6 linked regions of the Homo sapiens genome follow. The protein of the gene in region 3 purifies or fractionates together with the protein of the main gene of each other region. This does not show direct contact. Each region holds a gene or a part of one and is shown on either strand. Other genes may lie near its edges. The genes, in order: CORO2A, CTNNA2, SDHAF2, SH3BGRL, ABCA2 and NOL8.

Region 1 (3,500 bases), on a different chromosome or scaffold from region 3:
CCCACCTTGGCATCTTCTCCTCCAACAGGGAGGAAGACCTCCAGCCATCTTCTGCAGCCAGCTTTTCTGTCTGATTCAAGAGCCGGGGTGAGGCTGGGGCCATGGAATTGAAGATAGGTCTCTCTGCAGGCAGTGGGTGGGGTCTCAGCAGCTCAGAGCCAGGCCTAAGGGACACCAGGATTGGGTCTGGAAGGGAAGCAGAGCCATGTGAGGACGGGGTGCCCACGGGAAGATGGGCATATGGGGCACCAATGACACAGGCAGGCATGCAGAGACACTCAGAGCCATGCAGACCCATGCAACATGTGTGGGAAATACAGCTACCTGTGGACAGGCCCAAACCCACAGAGCAGGGCTAACAGATACAAATACCCACGTGTGCCACCCTCAGAGTGAAGCTTGGTTTGTAGGAACAGCACGGTGCGTGCACTGAAGCAGCCCCCAAACACTTCAAACTCACATGAGACCTTGCCCTTGCTTTGTAAGGACAGTCCCACCCACACTGCACCCCACCATCTACCAAGTTCATTAGTTCTCTCACCACCTCCAGAAAGCAGGGGAGGCTGGCATCATGGCTACAGATGAGGAAACTGAGGCCCAGGGAGCAAAACCTACTTAAGGTTATCCAAAACTAGGACTCGGCCCTGGTCCGCTGCCCCCCAAGGCAGAGGCTCTTCCAGTACACCAGGAGGCCCGCTCAGCCACTGGGGTGGGGGTGAAGGAAGTTTGTGGGGGTGGAAGGGAGAGGGAGCAGCTGGGGTGACTGCTTCTGCTGGGCTGGCCCCCGTGTTGGCAGGAGCGGGAGAGTGGCTCAGGACAGGCAGAGTGGGCAGAGGGACCTGGGTGGGGGTTGCTGCCTGGAGGGCTTCTTGGGTCAAGAAGAATTGCAAAAGGCCAGGCCCAGTGGCTCGCACCTGTAATCCCAGCACTTCGGGAGGCCGAGGCAGGTGGATCACTTGAGGTCAAGAGTTTGAGACCAGCCTGGCCAACATGGCAAAACCCCCATCTCTACTAAAAATACGAAAAATTAGCTGGGCATGGTGGCACGTGCCTGTAGTCCCAGCTACTCAGGAGGCTGAGGCATGAGAATCACTTGAACCTGGGGGTGGGGTGGAGGTTGCAGTGAGCTGAGATTGTACCACTGCACTCCAGCCTGGGCAACAAAGCGAGACTCTGTCTCAAAAAAAAAAAAAAAAAAAAAAAAAAAAGAATTGCAGAGGTAGGGGTGGGGAACAGGGACAGGGAGTCTGGCTGAGGTGGTCCAGGCACCCCACATAGCCCCAGAGTGTAAAGAAGCTTTCCGTGGGGCAAAGTCCCTTGAGTTGGAGTTTTCTGAGCTCTTGGGTCAAGCCCCCTGACTTTCTGGACCTGTATGTGACCATGCTACCCACTGGGGACTGAAGGTCAAGGGCATGGCTTCTGAGGTCATGAGAGAAGAAAAATCCAGGCCCAACCCCTCTCAATTGCTTGGGGCCACTGGGCACGCCATGTTCCTGTCACATTTGCCTGGGCCTCTTCTCTGCCTTCCTCACCTCGATTCATCCCGCTGAGCCACTCCTGGGCCGTCAGGGAGGGCTGGGCCCCTGCTGTTGGAGGGTATATGTCCTCTTGGTAGGATTCTGACTGCAGGAGAAATCCAGACAGTGAGGAGGGTGGTAGGGTAGGCTGCTCAGATGGGAAAGGCCCTTAGACCTGGGAGTCCAGGCTCTCACCAACCCCTGCTGAATTGAGGAAACTGAGGCCCAGAGAACAAAGGGACTTGCCCGAGGTCACGCAGCAGCTCAAGAACAGAGGTGGACCGAGACCCAGGACTCCTGACGCCCACTGATGTCACACTGGCTGTGAGAAAGGCCGCTCTGTGGCTGCCCCATGAACGTGGGCTCCAGGCTCTGGTGCCCGACAGCCCTGGGTCTGTCTTCTCCAGGACAGGTTCCCCACCTGCCTCCCATGCGGTCCCGACTGCCCTTACCCGCCGGGGCACAATCATGGAGATGGGCTCGATGAGGCTTTTGGTTGTGATCAGCTTGTAGAAGCGGAAGATCTCGCAGGAGGACACGTCGAGTCCTCTCTTTGGCATGACACCTGAAGGCAGACAGGGAGGGCCAAGAGGTTCTGGCTAGGCTGGGGCCACAGTGTTAGGGCCAAAGCCAGGCTGCACACCTGGACCTGAACAGAGACCAGTCTCCTCCCAGAAAACAGCTCAGGGACAAATACCGACACTGGGCTGGGCCCTATGTTGGGAAATGGAGTTGAATTAATCAGACTCTTCACCTTCAAAGATTTAAATTATTTTAGCTGAATTTTTTTCTTTTTGACACAAGGTCTCACTCTGTTGCCCAGGCTGGAGTGCAGTGGCACAATCATAGCTCACCGCAGTCTCACACTCCTGGGCTCAAGCGATCCTCCTGCCTTAGCGTCCCAAGTAGCTGGGACCACAGGTATGCACCTCAATTTTTTTATTTATTTGTAGAGACAGGAGTCTCACTTTGTTGCCCAGGCTAGGCTCGAATTCCTAGGCTCAAGTGATCCTCCAGCTTTGGCCTCCCAAAGTGCTGGATTAGCTGAACTTTTATAGGCAGTTTGCTCTGCTTAAGGTTCCCCATCTCCATCCCCACAGCTCCTGTGACCCAAATGCTCTTAATCAAACCGCTCCAGATTCCTTTTGAGTAGGGTTAGCAGGGTGCATCTTTCTCCAGTCCCTTACTTTTAATCTAGCCATGTCTTTATGTTTAAAGTGGGTTTCTTGTAGATTACAGAAATATAGCTGTGTTTTTAATCCTCAAGCACACTTAGAAAGGAACTGAGGACTGCTTCCTAGAGGCTCTTCTAGGTCAGCCCTTTCCATCTCTGCTCTTGTGGTAACTGCTTAACCTTGACCTAGAACACATCCCTCTCTCCCCTGCTGGGCTCTGCTTCCTCTTTCAGTTCCTCCAATGTTGCCTCCTCTGAGAAGCCTTCCCTGACTTCCTCCTTTGTGCTGTTGCACACGTCAAGTACAGCCCCCACCAAGTCAGAGTGTTGCTATGCTGTCTCTCCTCCCATCTGACTCATCCCTGTCTCCCCAGACCCCGCACTGAAGCCCTGACCCTGATTCTCCCACCTCGGCCTCCCGAAGTGCTGGGATTACAGGCATGAACTTCAGTGTCCCTCACTTACCGATCCCCTTCTGTGGGTTATAGGAGCGGTACTCAGTCAGGTAGCTCAGGTGAGGCTTGTCGGCGCTCACCTCGTAGTAGCGGATGTTGCCATCTCCCTGAGGAGGAGGAGAAGGAAGAGGAGGGTGAGATTCAGAGCTGGAGCTCATCAGCTCATCAGCAACCCAGCCATGCAGCAAAGACCTGGCTTTTTTTGATGATCGGCAAACCCATCTCACTCAAGGGAACACCAGGAAACTGGGGGCCCTGTCATCAAGGCAGGAGGGTGATGAGGGGATATTCATTTTATTTTAGATTTTATCTTATTTTTTTGAGACAGGGTCTCACTTTATTGCCCAGGCTGGA
Region 2 (3,500 bases), on a different chromosome or scaffold from region 3:
GTACTTGAAAACACCCTCACTATATAACTCAGATATACTCACGGGGGGAAAGAAATTCACCAAATGTTCACTGAATAGTTGGACTGCAGTGATTTTTATTTTCCAGACTCTTTTTCTTGTTATTTTCTAGATGTTCTACAATGGGCATTTATTACTGTAAGTGCAAAAGACAAAACATGTTCTTTTTGAAACAATGTATCTTCTGTTATTGGATTCTTGAGATACCTCTGTATAGATAATGCCAAAATATTTCTCTACTCCCAGCCTCTCCCCTTCACTCTAGTCTCACTTTTCAGCTACCTACCGAGTAGTTATCAGTGTCCCAGCTTTAGTTCTCCTGAATGTGATTTCTCCACCTCTCCCACTGCTGTGCTCATTGATCTCATCTCCCTGGCAGGCCAGCCCTGTCCCAGTTCCCAGACCAAGACAGGACTGAATCTGAAAGTACTAATACAAGGTCACCCCCTCCTCCATACTCTTATTCCCATCCATTGCTGAAGCAAAGTTGCTGATTCTGTGTCAGCCTGGATTTTTGCCCCACGCCACTGTGGCATCAGTACCACACTGCAGGACACACTCGATCATTCTGTCTGGTATTAAACTGTTCAGGTATTCATCTTATAGCCCCTACTAGATTGTCAACTTATGAGACAAGGCACTGTGTCTTACTCACGTATGGCTCCAGGACCGTGCCCCTCAAAACAGTGGTTTCGATAACTTGTAGGAAAGCATTTGTAAATGGCTGTTACATATGACCAGAAATCTGAGGATCTGTTTGAAGATGGAGCGAGTTCAGAGACTTAGTTGAATCAACAAGCATTTATGAAGGAATTACTGTGGGCCCAGCAATGACACAGGAGAATACTAGAAAAATGGAAGGTGCGGCTCCTATCCTTAAGACAGAATCTAGAGTGGTTGAGAACACCTTAGGAAAAAAAGTAGAAAATAATTACTGTTTTGGCTTCTGCCTTAACAAGCAAAACATGAAAATCTTCTTGCCTGAGGTCCTGATTTCACAGATGGGCAAACTGCAATCGAATTTGCCTGCCTGGATTCCAGACTACTGCCAGCACTGACTTTTGCTTCCTGTCCCAACTCCATGGGCCCCAATGTGCTTGGCTTTGCTTGTCACTATTTGTATGCTTGCCCACTTTAAATTGTTCCCTTGGGTCCAGATTCCCTGCCCCTCCAGTTCATGCTGTGGGCTAGAATCTAAATTTTCTCCTTCTTGTGCCACGTTGCCCTCTGTCACCTGTTTCTGCATACACTCTCCCACAATAAAAAGTTGTGACCACAATCTCAGCTTTTTGCTTCAACCTCTTGCCAAAACCTGAGAACAAGGCAGGCCTCTATATCAAATTGTAACAAACACTGCTGCTTACTTACCCAACAATCATTTACCTCTTCCTCATTAAAAGAATTGCTACTCTGTTCATCAGTCCCCTAACCTCCTCCACCCAGTGAAGGCTAATCCCATACATAGTCCCAGCCAGTAAATCCTGATTTAGTCTAAGCGCCTATCATTCATGGTATTCCCATTCCCCTTGCCATTGACTAGACTGGGAATGTCCATGTGATTCAGTGCTGGCCAGTGACATAAGAGAGAAGTCTGCAGGAGGGCTTTTGGCAAAAACCTCCTCATTCTGCAGGAAGAGACGCTGCTGCTGCATGACGGTGTGCTAGGAACTAAAGAAGTGATCATAGCACCGGCTGAGGAAGCAGTCAACATGCAGACTGAGCACAGACAAGAGAAATGTAGAAAGCAGAAATTAAGCCCATGTCTCCCATCCTCTGCATTTCTTGTCATTTTAGAAATCTTTTCCAATGTATTCCCCTTCCTCTGCTGCCAGGTAACATATATTAAATAGCGCACCTTAAAATTTATATATATATATATATATATATATATATATATATATATATATATATATATATATATATATCAGCAGCTTTGTTTTCTATCTCAAAGGGGTAACTTTCAAATAGGAATTTGACAGGTATTTTGGTTGTTTTTAGTTTGAAGCTATTATGAGTATGCTGTTATTAATTTTCATGCAAAAGTCCTTGTACATATGTTTTCATTTCACCTGGGAGTGGAGTTTCTGGATCGTATGGTAAGAGTATTTTTAACATTAAGAGAAACTGCCAAACTGTTTCCCAAAGTATTACATTCCCACCAGCAATGTATGAGTATCACAGTTGCTTCACATCCTCTCCAAAACTTGGTATTGCCAGTCTTTACAACTTAGTCATTTTAGTGTTTGGATAGTGGTATCACACTGTGGTTTTAAATTTAATTATTTCGGTGAATTATAGAGTTATCATGTGCTCATTAGATATTTGTATATTTTCTTGTGTGAAATATCTCAGCACATATTTTGTTCATTTTTTAGATGGATTGCCTGTCTTCTTACTGAGTTGCAAGAGTTCTATACATAGTCTAGATAAAGTCCTTTGTCAAACATACAGAGAGAGACATGTAGTTCTAACAAACCTTTTGTCTTTTGAAGAGCAAAACTTCTTTCTTTAACTTTGATAAAGTCTAATGCATATTTTCTTTTAAATTTTATGATTAGTGCTTTTTGGGTCCTAAGGGATCTTTGCCTAATCCAACATCACAGATTATCTCCTATATTTTCTTCTAGAAGTTTATGTACTCAAAATCATAGATTGATCCCACAAACATTATGCTCAATGCAAAAAGGAATATAAAAATGAGCACATATTCTGTGATTCAACCTATATCAATTTCTAGAATAGGAAAAAAGAATCTATAGTGACAGAGAGCAGATCAGTCGGAAGAGAAGATTTTAGGGTAACAGATATATTCTGTATCTTGATCGCACTGCTGGTTACACAGGTGTGTTTGTCAATCCACAACAAAGTATTCACTTAAAATGGGTACACTTTATTGTATAAAACATATGCCCAAAATTTTACTAAAATAATTTTAATGGGAATTTGGAGCTGGATTGGTAGGAAGACTGGTGACCACCAGGTCCTCTGAAATAGAATTTAGGGGGATAAGCAAGGCTTTGCTATGCCTGAGGCAGAAATATTAACCTTAAAGCATATATAATTTCTTAAATAAACATTACTTCATTCTAAATGCATAAATGCCATATAGTCTTTCACAAACATTGGCATGGCCGAAACAAGCCAACCACACACTGGGAGAGTCCCTAAATAGTGGTAGCAACTGACTTGTACCTTCAATGTAGGAAGAAGTTTCAAAATGAAAGAGAGGGAAGGATGGAGAGATAAGAAAAGACAGGTTACTTAGTCCCTCACAGTTTGCCCAGAGACTGTGAAGCTAAATTTGCAATTTTATTGGGAAAGGGAAAGCATATGCCACTGAAGGTGAAGTTTTTTTTTCCTTATGCAGCAGAAGTTTATGTTTCAAAAGAAAAAACAAATGGAACACAATGAAAACAAATCATTTGCCTTGAAATTTTAAGAAAAAAACACATGTAGAATTATAGAATTTTATAGCTAGATAT
Region 3 (3,500 bases):
AGGCTGGTCTCGAACTCCTGGCCTCAAGTGATCCACCTGCCTCGGCTTCCCAGAGGAGGAGCATGTGATCTCATGCTGAAATTACAGGCATGAGCTACCACACCTGGCCCTATTATAAAGTTAAACATATACACTTACCACATGACCCAGCAAATCCTTCTCCTGAGTATTCACTCAAGAAAAACTAAAACCTATGTTCACAAAATCTGTATGCAAATGTTTACAGTGGCTTCATTTATAATCACCTAAAGCTGGAAATAATCCTAATGTCCCTCAGCTGGTCAAAAGATGAACAGACCATGGTACATCCACACAATGGAATATTACTCAACACAAAAGAATGAACTATTGATACAAGTAACAACAAGGATACGCATCTCAAATGCATTATGCTAAGTCAGGGCAAACTTGTTCTGTAAAGGGTTGGAGAGTAAATATTTGGACTTTGTTGGCTTTCCAGTGATTGTATAAGGCTCCAGACTCTGTCTTATCACTCTTCATACCTGGAACCCATAGACAATGGCTGCTACTTTCTGATACAAATATTGAGTGGAGACACAAAAACAGCAGTCCCGGAGTGTGGCAGAATGAATGACACGTCCCCTAATATCCAGTTTTCATCGATAACAGAATCTCCAACACAGCTGGGCAGATGGAATAGACTATATTATTTTTCCTTATGGTTAGACGTAGCCAAGTAACTAAGCTGTGGCCAATGGCAAATAAGTGGAAGTATGCTGGATAATTTCCTGAGCGGGATCTACAAAGGAGGGGTATGCACTTCCACACACTTTTTCCGGGCTGAAATATGGCTGTCCTGGATCAAGAAGTAGAAAACACATGCTAGGATGAAAGAGCAGCAAGTAGGGGGGACCTGGACCCATGACTTTTTGAAGCCCCTCTATGAGCTCTGGAGTGTGCCTTCCTCTGGACTTCTGTCATGAGAAAGACAGTTCTACCTTGTTTAAGCCATTACTGTTTTGGATGTTTTTTTACTCATAGCCAAAGTTAATCCTAACTATACACAGTTAGAATTCATTCCTCATAAAGGTAGTGCCTGAATGAAACTTTTTTTTTTTTGAGACATAGTCTCACTCTTTTGCCCAGGATGGAGTGCAGTGGTGCAATCTCAGCTCACTGCAATCTCTGTCTCCCAGGCTCAAGCGATTCTCTTGCCTCAGCCTCCCAAGTAGCTGAGACTGCAGTTGTCCGCCACCATGTTCGGCTAATTTTTGAATTTTTGGAGAGATGAGGTTTCGCTGTGTTGGCCAGGCTGCTCTCAAGCTCCTAACCTCAAGCGATCCATCCGCCTCAGCCTCCCAAAGTGCTCAGATTAGAGGCATGAGCCACTGCGGCCGGCCAGAATGAAACTATTGAGGAGCTTTGGCTATGCAGACTTAGTTGTCTGATTCCACTCCATTCCCAGAGTGGTTCTTCTTCAACCTTTGATACTGTGAGCTTCATATACCCTTCCACTAAATTCCTTTTTGCTTAAGTGAGACAAACAAGTTTCCACTCTGTCTCGCAAATAAAGAACTTTAACTGATAAATTTTGTACACTTAACAAAAATTTGAACAGTGTTTGGGTTGAGTGTCTACTTCATGAATAAAAGAAAAAAATTATAAGCCAGGCACAGTGGCTCATGCCTGTAATCCCAGGATTTTGGGAGGCCGAGGCGGGCGGATCACCTGAGGTCAGGAGTTCGAGACTAGCCTGACCAACACAGAGAAACCCTGTCTCTATTAAAAATATAAAATTACCCGGGTGTGGTGACACATGCCTGTAATCCCAGGTACTCAGGAGGCTGAGGCTGGAGAATCGCTTGAACCTGGAAGGTAGAGGTTGCAGTGAGCCGAGATCATGCCATTGCACTCCAGCCTGGGCAACGAGAGTGAAACTCAGTCTCAAAAAAAAAAAAGAAAGAAAAAAATTATCTAGGATACAATTCTAGACTCAAATCAGCCTAAACTGTCCTATTTTCACATTATGCTGCTTATCATACCCAGTACCTGTGGCCCAGTAGTAAATATCCCAGTCATTACTAGGCTCGTTAATCAGGCGGTCATAGAGGTTCAGCTGCTTTTCTGTCATGTGCTGCAGATGTTCTTTAGCAAAAAGACTAAAAACAAGAAAGAAAAAAAGAAAAAGAGGTTGAGAAGGCTGTGTCTAATAAAAGAGAAGTGACACCAAGACTCCTACTCCTGGGAGTCTCTCTGAACCTACTCTGGCTCAGGAAGCTGCCCGATTTAAAAAAAAAGACTCCTAGTCCCATACCTAAGAAGAATGCAGTTTTCCAACATTCCCCTCTTTCTGCTCTCATAGAGCAGGCGGGCTCTTTTGGTTTCTATGGATTCATCAGTTCTCTCCTGCCATGGAGGCAAAGGGATTTCAATCATGTCCTTTTGGGAATCTGTTGGGCTGTCACCTCTGTAGAAGCGTCTGAATGATGTCACACTGAGCAAAGGAGACAATAGGCTGTGCCTTGACAGAGCAAGCATCTGAAATGAACAAACCACAAACATCTTTACAATAATGACGACTATCATCGCTATCATTTACTCAATGCTTACTAGGTGCTGAATGCATTCAATCACATTTAGTCATGAGGAAATTACACTGCTGGCCAGGCGTGGTGGCGCACACCTGTAATCCCAGCACTTTGGGAGGTCAACGCGAGCATGATTACTTGAGTTCAGGAGTTCGAGACCAGCCTGAGCAACATAGCGAGACCCTGTCTCTACCAAAAATACAAAAATTAGCCAGGCATAGTGGGGTAGTCCCACCATGGTGCCTGTGGTCCCAGCTACTCAGGAGGCTGAAGTGGGAAGATCATCTGAGCCTGGGAAGGTCAACGCTGCAGTGAGCTGTGATCGTACCACTGCATTCCAGCCTGGGCAACGGACCCTATCCCCCTGAAAAAAGAAAAGAAATTATGCTGATATTGTCCCCACTTTATAGCCAAGGAAACAGAGGCTCAGGAAGGTTCAATAACTCACCCAAAATCATCCAAATAGTAACTGCAATTAGAATTAAAACACAGTCCTAACTGCAAATGTGTCCCTAACCAGTGCCTTTCCAGAAACTATCCCAGCAGAAATAATTTTTCCTTCCTTTGCACTCCCTTAAAATTCTTACAGTGTGGTTTATACTCTACTCACTCACCTGTGTCAAATCCTGAGCACACAGAGACAGCATGATCCCTAATCCCCCAAAGGCTCCCAATCCAGAGAAGTTGACAACTTATCAAGATATGATGTCAAGGTGGTGACCTCAGCAAGAGGTGAAGATGGTGGAGTAGGAAACCCCAGATCCTCCTTCCCCGATGGAGACACTGAGCCAACAGCAACAAACAAACCAATTCCCTGTGAGAAATCCAGAAACCAGTAAGAGGCTCCTGCTCCCCAGGTGAGCACAAAACCAGCTGCATCGAATCCAGCAGAAAAATTTGTAGCACTCATTTGCCATAGTCTCTTCCCTCCCTGCTCAAGCATGATCATGA
Region 4 (3,500 bases), on a different chromosome or scaffold from region 3:
CTTGTTTCAAGTAGAAATTCACTGAAAATATTTCACCCCAACTACTGAATCCTTTGAGAAGTTAAAATTATTTACCTGAATCACAAGACCAATTATGTTTTTTCTGAAAGTCTGAGATCAGATTTCATTATTTTTAGTAATAAATTTCCAACAACACTTTGTATTAGGGTTCTCTTAGAGGGGCAGAAGTAGTAGGATATATGTGTGTATATACATATATATATATGGAGTTTATTAAGTATTAACTTACATGATCACAAGGTTCCACAATAGGCTTTCTGCAAGCTGAGGATCAAGGAGAGCCAGTCCAAGTCCCAAAACTGAAGAACTTGAAGTCCGACGTTCAAAGGCAGGAAGCGTCCAGCACGGGAGAAACATGTAAAGTGGGAGGCTAGGCCTGTCTCTCTTTTTCACGTTTTTCTACCTGCTTTATATTTGCTGGAAGCTGATTAGATTGTGCCCAGCAGATTTAGGGTGGATCTGCCTTCCCCAACTCACTGACTTTTTTTTTTTTTGAGACGGAGTCTCGCTCTGTAGCCCAGGCTGGAGTGCAGTGGCACGATCTCGGATCACTGCAAGCTCCGCCTCCCGGGTTCACACCATTCTCCTGCCTCAGCCTCCCGAGTAGCTGGGACTACAGGCGCCCGCCACCACGCCCGGCTAATTTTTTTTGTATTTTCAGTAGAGACGGGGTTTCACCCTGTTAGCCAGGATGGTCTTGATCTCCTGACCTCGTGATCCGCCCGCCTCGGCCCCCACAAAGTGCTGAGATTACAGGCGTGAGCCACCGCGCCCGGCCTCAAATGTTAATCTCTTTTGGCAACACCCACACAGACAGTACCCAGGATTAATACTTTGTATCCCTCAATCCAATCAAGTTGACACTCAGTATTAACCATCACACACTTCTAGAAGCTTTCTTTCATGATACTCTTCATTTTAAGTTACTCATATTCAGCTTGTGAGAATGATGAGAGGCAAAGAAAGTTTTATGACCTACTCAAATCACACAGGCAATAGCCAATAAAACATATCTCACCCTTACAGCTAAAAAAGCTTTAAAATCCCTTCAAAAAACAATTCATCTTATCTACTTTTCATTAGATTGCAATAAAATGATTTTCTTAAATTGAGATAAAGGTACATGTTCTGCATTCTAACTAATAGTATAGGCTGAGCTCTTATAACTTTGATTGTCTCCTCTGATAAACTCAAGTTCTCCACTTGATGTAACAGACCACCAGAATTATCCTTAGTATTTCTATAGACCACGTATTGCTATAGACCAGTTAATTAAGAAGTATTTTTCATGGTTTTTCAAGTTCATCAGAAAAGAAGTATTACAACGACTTGTAAATCAGTTTCAGAGCTGCATTCAGAGTGGGTAATTAGTGAATATCATCAAGTGGGAAGAATAGCATAGGGCTTCAGATCATGGGCCCTGGAATCAGACAAACCTGGGGGGTACTTTACTAGCTCTGTGACCTGGCTAGTTCTCTGAGCCTCTCTTCTTAAAAACAGAGATAATAAGAGTACTAGCTTCATTGAATTGTCAGAAAAATGAAACAATACATGTAAAGTTCTTACCGGTGTGCCTGACTCAATGAATTATAGCTCTTAATATTATTACCCACTAAAGCTGACAATTTGCATGAGAAATTAAAGTAAGATGATTGATCATATGTTTAATAAATTAAGTAATTATATATGCTTGTCTTCCTTCTAAATCAAATTTGATATAACATACTGAAGAGAACGGTCTCCAATATCATACAACTACTATTAAATATATATTTACAGATAATTTTAACAGAAAAACATGCTGCACTTATAATGAAACAACTGGCTGAAAGGTGATGGTGAAACAGAAAATTTTCTCATGTAGTAAATGTTACCTAAGATGAATATTCTCTGGTGTTTGAAAGGTGAAATTTTATTTGTCTTGACTCATTTTTGGAAATCCCCCAAGCAGAAAGGCTTGGCTAGACCCTAACTCTAGGATAGGGTCTCATTTCCAAAAAGGACTAAGCCAAAGGGACAGAAATCAAGGACTAGAGTCTAAAACCAGAGTTTACAAGTTATAGCAGTACTGCCTTCCTGGTTAATTTAGATTTACAGAATCATAGAAACCACCTTTTAATTATGTTGGTCTATAGCCACATAACATGCAAGAGAATCAGTCATAAAAATTCAGTATGTAACACAGGCCAGCATAAGAAAGTACAGACAAATATTATTTTTAAGTGTGCCCTCGATGAATTCATTTGATTTTAAAAAAAGAACCACATTTTAAAAGAACATGGTGCTACTATCCTCCCTACACCCAGCCTGCCCACCAGTGCCAACTCTCATCTCACTCTCGAGTACGGGTTATGAATGAGAACACATTTGCCTACTTAGACATCATCCCCTCTTGAATGGCAATTGTATTTCAAAATCATATAACAGGATTTTTATGTAGTATTGACAATTTCTATTCAATACCTATAAACAGAGGATGTGTAAATAACACAGTGTTTAGGAGTGGGTTCTGAAGTCCGAACAACCAGAGTTCTGATCACAGCCCTGTCATTTCTAGCTCTTCAGTCTTGACCAATGTACCTATGTTTCTGGATCTTAGAGATACCCCCTCCAATTAGGTAAAATGAATCTAATAGTAGTTATTACTATGTTAAAATATTATTGTAAAGATAAATTAAGTAAAATAATGTAGGTAAAGCCCTGGGCACCTTGCCTGACATATACAATGCATAAATAAGTGTTGTCTTTACTATTACTAAAGTCAAATCTTAGCAGCTGAGCATGGTGGCTCACGCGTGTAATCCCAGCACTTTGGAAGGTCGAGGAGGGCGGATCACTTTAGCTGAAGAGTTTGTGACCAGCCTGGGCAACGTGGTGAAAACCTGTCTCTACCAAAAATACAAAAGTTATCTGGGCCTGGTGGTGCATGTCTGTGGTCCCAGCTACTTGAGAGGTTGAAGCAGGAAGATCGCTTGAGCCTGGGAGGCAGAGATTGCAGTGAGCCAAGATCATGCCATCACACCACAGCCTGGGTGACAGAGTGAGACTCCGTCTTAAAAAAAAAAAAAAAAAAAAAAACTTAGTTATGCTAACGAAAGGGCAATACAACAACAAAAAACCTAGCATCATTGAACACTTAAATATACAGTCTTTGAATTTGTTATGATATTTTTAAACTTATATTTGAATTTTTTGCCTGATGTTCTGGCAATCTGCAAGATTTCAAGCAAACCTAATAAAACCAACAGGCAAGACCTGGGCTAGAAAAAAATCTCCTTGCTTAAAATTCTTCTCTGCTGCCCAAGTGTAAAAGGTCAGGTTTGTCTCTCATATTAATGAAAACAGTCATCATAAATGAACCGCCTCGTCTCTCTAAATGTACTTTTGTTTAACCTTGGTCTGGATTGAAGAAAGTAATTAAAGACTGGGTTTAAAAGGCCTCCTAGTGGGCCGCAAAGTAGATCTGAAAGCAAACAGAT
Region 5 (3,500 bases), on a different chromosome or scaffold from region 3:
GCCAGTAGGCGCGGCGGATCTCGTTGGTTTTCTCGGTGAAGCTGGAGTTCTGGCGGATCTTGTAGTGCACGTGAGGCGGGAGCGAGCCGTCCTTCCGGGTCTGGAAGATCACACCTGGGGCCGGGAGGTTGGGGCGGGGCCAAGATGCAGGGGCGGGACCAAGGCGTGGTGGGGGGGAAAGCAAGGCACGGGGGCGGGGCCAAGGTGTGGGGGCGGGGACAGGAGGGTCCAGGGAAAGGTGGGACAGGGCTGGGGTGGGGGCCCCAGGGGAAAGGTGGGCAGAAGTGGGGAGGTGCAGGGAGGGGGCGGGTTGTGGGTTGGGGCCGTTTGGAAGGGGCAGGGGTGGGGAGGGGAAGTGGCGGGTGAGGGGGGAAGGCCAGGGCGCGGCCAAGGAGTGGGAGGGCACAGGGGGACGGGTGGGGCTGGGCTGGGGAGGAAGAGGTCTGTGGGGGGCTGGGGCGGGGCGGGGAGGGCAGCTCACTGGCAAAAACAGTGACGTTGTCCTGGTAGGCCTGGTTGAGGGTGTAGTTGACAATGCTCTCCTCGTCGGGGAAGCCCTTGAAGATGTCCACGCTCACCTAGCGGGAGGGGCATCGCTGGAGCCCGCCGTGGGCATGTGCGAGGCAGGGGGTGTCGTGGGTTGGCTCGGAGGCCCCACCGCTCACCTTGGACATGAACTGGATCCAGCCGCAGGCCGCGTTGTCAATGGTATCCAGCTGCTGCAGGAGGGCCATGCCACTGGGCAGCGAGAAGTTGTCCTGTCTCAGGGCCGGCGGCAGCTCATCCAGTGACAGGTTCAGTGCCTCGGGGTGCAGCCGCAGCTCTGCTACATACTTGGGGTGGAGGGGCGGCTCAGAGGGGGACCTGCGCCTGCCGAGCCGGGCAGAGAGGGGCTCCCCACACCACCCACAGCCGCCTCCCTCGCGGGCACCCTTGGCACCTGCTGCAGCCAGCGCAGGTGTTGCTGCAGCCTGCCCTGCTCCAGGAAGCTGCGGATCTCCGCCGAGATGTTGAGCCAGACCTGGGCATAGTGAGTCACGTTGCCCACAAAAGCAAAAGTCTCGTTGGCCTGCAGGGGGTGAGGCAGGGGCATGGAGTTTCTGGACGGACCCCCACCGACTTGGGGGCTCTCACCCCACTCACCTCCCCAGTGGCTGGTCCATTGCCAACAACTAACCCTCCCCACCTTTTTTTTTTTTTTTTTCCTGAGACAGGGTCTCAGTCACCCACGCTGGAGTGCAGTGGTGCAGTCCCAGCTCACTGCAGCCTCCACCTCCCAGGCTCAAGGGATCCTCCCGCCTCAGCCCTCCAAGTAGCTGGGATTACAGGTGCCCACCACCACGCCTGGCTAATTTTGTATTTTTGGTAGAGACGGGCTTCCGCTATGTTGCTCGGGCTTGTCTCAAACTCCTGAGCTCAAGCGATCCTCCCACCATGGCTTCCCAAAGTGCTGGGATTTCAAGCGTGAGTCCCACGCCCGGGCTCTCCACTCCTTTCTGCGGCGCTCAGGTGAAACCTGCTTTGCCCTCCACTCCCAGGGCAGCACGGCCTCCGGACCCCCAACTGCCCAGCTGTGCCCACCAGCTCCTTTGCTGGACCTGTCTCCATGTGTCCCTTAAGCACCCAATGCTCCACCCTCATCTGTCCCACCCTCATCCTAGGGACCCCCTCTACACCCAGGATTGGCCTCGTCCACAGGCCCTCCCCTCCCAGGCCAATGTCCAGCCCTGGCCTCTGCTTGTTCCAGACAGGACCCCTCACCCAGAACCCAAACTGCCCAGCTGCCCGCCCACGAGACACTCTGGAAGGTCTCTGGACACACCCCTCCTCCACCAGCACTGCCCTGGACCGGCCACCCCCAGCCGGAGGACCCTGCCAGAGCAGACTCTCCAGTGCCTTCCCACAGCAGCCCCTGGAGCTCCCGAAAGGAAAAGCGACCCCCTGGTCCCCCACCTGCAGAGCCTGTGTCCCATCCGAAGCTGCACCCCGTACCCCTCCCGTGTCAATTCTGCCGACACCCTCTGCCCAGGGGTCCCAGGCCTGCAGAGACCCCCTCCCACTCTGCCTGTCAAACATGGAGCGTCCCAGACCCGTGCACCTTGAGGATGACGCGGTCGACCTCAGAGCCCGCAGGCGCGTACAGGATTTTGGGGTTGCTGGTCATGAGGTGCACGAGGAGGCCCAGGTTCCGCTGCTCCTTGCTCGTGAAGCCCAGGGAGCTCATGTTGCCCCGCCGCAGCGCCTCGGGTTCAATGGTGCTGGGGTAGGGGACAGGGGGCCGGGCCAGGCCGTTAGGGGGCAGGGCCGCGAGAGTGGGAGGGGCATCGGGATGGGGCAGGACTTCGGGGCACAGGGCAGGGCGCCAAATGAGACCTCCAGAGCCAGAGCCTAGATTCAGGGCTCACGCCCTGCCCCTGGCTGTCCTCCTCACCCCCATTCCCCTGCCGCCCACCTACCGGTTGTTGCCACACAAGATGGGCTGCAGGCCGGCCCAGAGCTGTACGAAGGCTGAGCACTGGCCCTGCAGCGTGTCCGGGGTGGCCAGTGCTGCAGCAGAGGGTGCGCCCTCCTCAGCGGTGGCGTTGGGGCCCATGACTGCCCCTGCCCCAGTGCCATTGGCCGCCCCACCCGCACCACTGGCTGGGGGTCCGGGGGTCCGGCCAGTGCAGGCACCCTGGGGCAGTAGCAGGGCCAGGGCCGACAGGACATCCACATCCTGCAGAACCTTCTGGGCATCCAGCAGGTCCCCCAGAAGCGCCTGCAGCCTCCGTGGGGGTGGCGCCTGTGGCGAGGAGTCCGAGCCGTTGGGGGCATCCAGGCCCAGCTGAGGGGAAACAGGCACGTGGGCAGTGCGGGGTGAGATGGACTGCAGGTGGGTGATAGGTCAGGAGTGGAGCAGGGAGACAGCAGCAGGGAGACACAAGCTAGGGGTGCTGGGAGGGAGTCTGCAGCCTGGGTAACGGGAGCCCAGGACAGGAGCTGGGATGGTGAGCAGGAGTGGGGCACCAGCCATGGTGCCATTGGATACCCACCCACAGGCAGCATCCCACGCACAGCCTGGGCCCAGGAGCCCTGAGCTCTCCAAGCGGTCCCAGCCCCTCCTTCAACTCAGGCAGCAAGCAGCGCAGCGGGCAGTGGGCAGGCAGGGCCTCACCTGCTGGGAGACCTTGGCCACGTCCAGCTGGTTCCGGAGCTCAGCAGACAGCCCAGAGAAGCGCCTGGCACGCGCAGCAGCCTGCCCACTGCAGACAGCATCCCGGTAGCCCTGCAGGGCTCCCTTCTGACTCTCAGGCACAGTGAGGATCCGGCCCAGCTCCCCCGAGCCCGGCGTGCAGGTGAGCTGCTCCAGGAGGGCAGGAGCCAGCAGCAGCTCCTGGGATGGGCACAGGGGTCCGTGGAGCCACGGCAAGGACTTTGTCCCCAACCACTAGGGCCTCAGGCCTCACCCTGCCCCACCCACTGGCTGGCTCTGGGGCTGCCTGGGTCCCACGACATGCCTC
Region 6 (3,500 bases), on a different chromosome or scaffold from region 3:
CAAATTGTCCTGTTGTTTCAAGATTCAATTCAGGATACCACACTGCCTTTTGTGATTTTCGTGGCTATTAGCAGTTGGAAAATGAAGGATTTAAACCAAGCTGCTACTGGTTGCTCCATATATTTGCCATGTTTATCCAACTGACTGCACATCTATAGGAAACAGAAGCTCCTACCACACTAGATGGTTGAATGGTTGCCCCCCAAAAGCTATGTCCATGTCCTAATTCCTGAAACCTGTGAATGTTAACATTATTTAGATAAGGGGTCTTGCAGAGATATTAAGTTAAGGGTCCTAGGATGAGGAGCCCATCCAGGATTATCCAAGTGGGCCCTGAATGCTATCACAAGTGTCCTTATAAGAGGCACAAAGAGGAGAGACAGAAAAGAAGAGGCCATGTGAAGATAGAGGCAGAAATGGGAGTAATGTAGTCTCAAGCCAAGGAACACCAAAGGATTGGTGGCAGTCACTAGAAACTAGGAGAGGCATAAAACAGCTTTGTTTCCCTGAACCTCTAGAAGGAACATAACCTGTTCACTATCTTAATTTGGGACTTCTAGGTTCCAGAACTGTAAAGAAATAATTTTTGTGATTTTAAGTAACTAAGTTTGTGGTAGCTACAGAAGACACAAGAAACTAGTACAAATAAAAGGCATCATTTATACAAATAAAAGGTATAAATGATAGGAGTACATATCATTTATAGATTCCTCTGTTAAAAGGTAAGACCTCCTCCACCACATCAATAATTCCTTTCTAACTCTACCTGCACTACCCCTACCCCACCAATCTTAATACAGTGGGACCAATGAGTAGGATATTGGTTCCTACCTACATTTTTAATTGTCTGAAATGAGATTAATTTACATGATCCTATTGCTAAAAGAAGTAGCTCTACTTACCTTTCTTTTGGCTTATCATCTCTTTTTCTTTCGTAAGTGGCATGGTCTTGCTTCGTTGGATCATAATGTATGATGTCCCTATGTAAAAAAAGGAAGGGAGGTTGGAAGAGATAAAAACAGAACACTAATACAAAAAGTAAGTAGCAAATTATAATTCAGCACTAGGAAGATTCTAATTTTGCAGCAAGAAGAAGCCATATAACATCAGATAAGATAACTAGGATCTTACTAGAAATAACATATACATAGATTTTTCTTGGAGACAGAGTCTCGCTGTGTTGCCCAGGCTGGAGTGCAATGGCGTGATCTTGGCTCACTGCAACCTCCGCCTCCCAAGTTCAAGCGATTCTCCTGCCTCAGCCTCCCAAGTAGCTGGGATTACAGGCATGTGCCACCATGCCCGGCTAATTTTTATATTTTTAGTAGAGACGGGGTTTCACCATGTTGGCCAGGCTGCTCTCCAACTCCTGATCTCAGGTGATCCGCCCACCTTAGCCTCCCAAAGTGCTAGGATCACAGGTGTGAGCCACCATGCCCAGCCGAAAAAATATTTTAAACTACCTACTTTTGAGATTTCCTGGATTTTTTTAGCTTTTAAAATGATTTTAAACATACTAAAATACATACAGATAAAATGATATACTATCTGGGATTTGCATAAAACATTTCATTGTGTAAAGTAGGGGTTGGATAAAGGTATAGAAGAGAACACTGGTCACATGTTGGTGACTGTAAAAGCTAGGTGATGGTGTACAGGGCTTTCATTACCTGGTGTACAGGTAATGATGGTATACAGGGCTTTCATTAGTCTCTCTAAATTTCATGCCTGAAAATTTCCATAACAGTTACGTTTATATAAATACTTTTACAGTTACTATTTAAACTGTTTCCCATTTGTTTCACTAATGAAAGCGATGCTGCTATGACATCTAAGTGTATAAATACAGAAATAATTTAAGATTAGTTCCTTGAAGTGAATCACTGGGTCAAAGGCAAGTATATTTTTAAGGGTCTGATACATATTGCCAGCTGCCTCCCCAGGCCATTAAAAGAGACCTAGTTTTAAATTGAGTTCAAGAAGACATTTATGGCAAAGGATGATATGGTAGAATGGGATGGAACATAAAACATACTTAAATTTCTTAGCAGCTACTGATCCTCTGTTTGTAGAATTGCTTAAGTTGATTTGCAAAACACTTTGTACAACATTCAGGGCTTTCTTTTTTTCTTCAGCAAGCTCTTCTTCCTCAGCAGTTTTCTTTTCATTTACCTCTTTGAGGAAAAGGGATAATTAATACTCTCTTGGAAAACACAGCCTGAGAAGTCTCAATCATCAAATATTTACCAAGTACCTAAACATGTTCAAAATCCATTAAGACAGGAAGAAGAAACTTTAACCTCATTTCACTAACCTCCATAACCAAAGACCCTCAGTCATAGCAAACTCAGAAAGTCTGCGTGACCAGACAATGAAAAGTCCTACTTCTGTTCCTAATTATGAAAGTCTGAATTTAATGGCTTTCAGTAGCAAGTCTAAAACTTTTAAGGTAAAGATCGACAAATGTAATAGAGCAAGATACTAATAACTACAGTGATTATAGACTCTTTGATTTTTTTAACATTCTAAACATAATCTAAATTACGTAAATCTAAAAATGATAAAGAGTGAAAAATGGTAATGGTATATCTGACAATATAAGATATTAGTGGATAGTTGTTTCAGTCTTTGATTCAATAACAAGTATTATGGGAAAAAAACCATATGCCCTACACATACTAAGGCATCATGGACTTTTACAAGCTACTATCCTCAACTACTACAAACAGACAAAATATCACAGAATAAAGTTAAACAGCTAGTTTGGATTACAGAAATACAAAAGTAGTCTAAGCCTGTATGACTCTTTCAACTTACTGCAGGATATAAATAACCAACTAACAGAAACTAGAATAAAATGCTAATTTAAGTACTCTACAGGGATGCCCCCAAAGTTTCTAAGGGTTCAAAGGAAGTTGAGATAGTGTTTAACTGAATCAAAAGATGCTTTATAAACTAGGTAAAGTTATGAGGTAGGAAAGATAGAGTTGAATCCCTAGAGGTGGTAGGAAAGCATGCTAGGTGTTGGAAACAAAACGAACACATATATTGAAATAATAAAGTACAAAAAGTTTACACTGCATTAGGTTGAAACTGCTAATTTCAACAACTTTTGACTATCAAAAACATCAATTTAAATTTTAATCTAATAAGCATTAGGGAAGTAGATTATAATGCTGAAAAAGGCTCAAGGTGATATAGGCTGGCTGTGCTGCTTACTTGAGACAAAACGTTGTGCCTCAAAATTTGGGAAGGGGTCTGGTGCAGTGGTTCCATGCCTATAATCTCAGCACTTTGGGAAGCTGAGGCAGGAGGATCACTTGAGGCCAGGAGTTTGAGACCCGCCTAGGCAACACAGCGAGACCCTGTCTCTATGAAAATACAAAAATTAGCTGGACATGGTGGCACATGCCTGTAGTCCTAGCTACTAGAGAGACTGAGTTTGAGGTTACAGTAAGCTATGACTGTGCCACTGCACTCCAGCCTGAGGAACACAGTGA

The links.
Region 1: the proteins of SDHAF2 (region 3) and CORO2A purify together in Homo sapiens (affinity purification with mass spectrometry; one large-scale study listed by BioGRID and IntAct). This does not show direct contact.
Region 2: the proteins of SDHAF2 (region 3) and CTNNA2 purify together in Homo sapiens (affinity purification with mass spectrometry; one large-scale study listed by BioGRID and IntAct). This does not show direct contact.
Region 4: the proteins of SDHAF2 (region 3) and SH3BGRL fractionate together in Homo sapiens (co-fractionation; one large-scale study listed by BioGRID). This does not show direct contact.
Region 5: the proteins of SDHAF2 (region 3) and ABCA2 purify together in Homo sapiens (affinity purification with mass spectrometry; one large-scale study listed by BioGRID and IntAct). This does not show direct contact.
Region 6: the proteins of SDHAF2 (region 3) and NOL8 purify together in Homo sapiens (affinity purification with mass spectrometry; one large-scale study listed by BioGRID and IntAct). This does not show direct contact.

Annotation. Positions count from the first base shown.
Region 1 is NC_000009.12:98,126,638-98,130,137, forward strand, and holds part of CORO2A (coronin-2A), read right to left. Parts: intron 3,254-3,500; coding exon 3,157-3,253; intron 2,083-3,156; coding exon 1,970-2,082; intron 1,624-1,969; coding exon 1,533-1,623; intron 187-1,532; coding exon 1-186.
Region 2 is NC_000002.12:79,519,551-79,523,050, reverse strand, and holds part of CTNNA2 (catenin alpha-2), read right to left. Parts: intron 1-3,500. UniProt on the Homo sapiens protein: May function as a linker between cadherin adhesion receptors and the cytoskeleton to regulate cell-cell adhesion and differentiation in the nervous system. Required for proper regulation of cortical neuronal migration and neurite growth.
Region 3 is NC_000011.10:61,436,624-61,440,123, reverse strand, and holds part of SDHAF2 (succinate dehydrogenase assembly factor 2, mitochondrial), read right to left. Parts: intron 2,500-3,500; coding exon 2,276-2,499; intron 2,121-2,275; coding exon 2,011-2,120; intron 1-2,010.
Region 4 is NC_000023.11:81,208,602-81,212,101, reverse strand, and holds part of SH3BGRL (adapter SH3BGRL), read right to left. Parts: intron 1-3,500. UniProt on the Homo sapiens protein: Appears to function as an adapter protein that bridges proteins together or proteins with mRNAs. May function as a ubiquitin ligase-substrate adapter.
Region 5 is NC_000009.12:137,018,238-137,021,737, forward strand, and holds part of ABCA2 (ATP-binding cassette sub-family A member 2), read right to left. Parts: intron 3,374-3,500; coding exon 3,155-3,373; intron 2,825-3,154; coding exon 2,457-2,824; intron 2,259-2,456; coding exon 2,099-2,258; intron 1,070-2,098; coding exon 941-1,069; intron 834-940; coding exon 666-833; intron 579-665; coding exon 482-578; intron 115-481; coding exon 1-114. UniProt on the Homo sapiens protein: Probable lipid transporter that modulates cholesterol sequestration in the late endosome/lysosome by regulating the intracellular sphingolipid metabolism, in turn participates in cholesterol homeostasis.
Region 6 is NC_000009.12:92,304,851-92,308,350, forward strand, and holds part of NOL8 (nucleolar protein 8), read right to left. Parts: intron 2,175-3,500; coding exon 2,036-2,174; intron 981-2,035; coding exon 903-980; coding exon of another isoform or gene 899-902; exon of another isoform or gene 898-898; intron 1-897. UniProt on the Homo sapiens protein: Plays an essential role in the survival of diffuse-type gastric cancer cells. Acts as a nucleolar anchoring protein for DDX47. May be involved in regulation of gene expression at the post-transcriptional level or in ribosome biogenesis in cancer cells.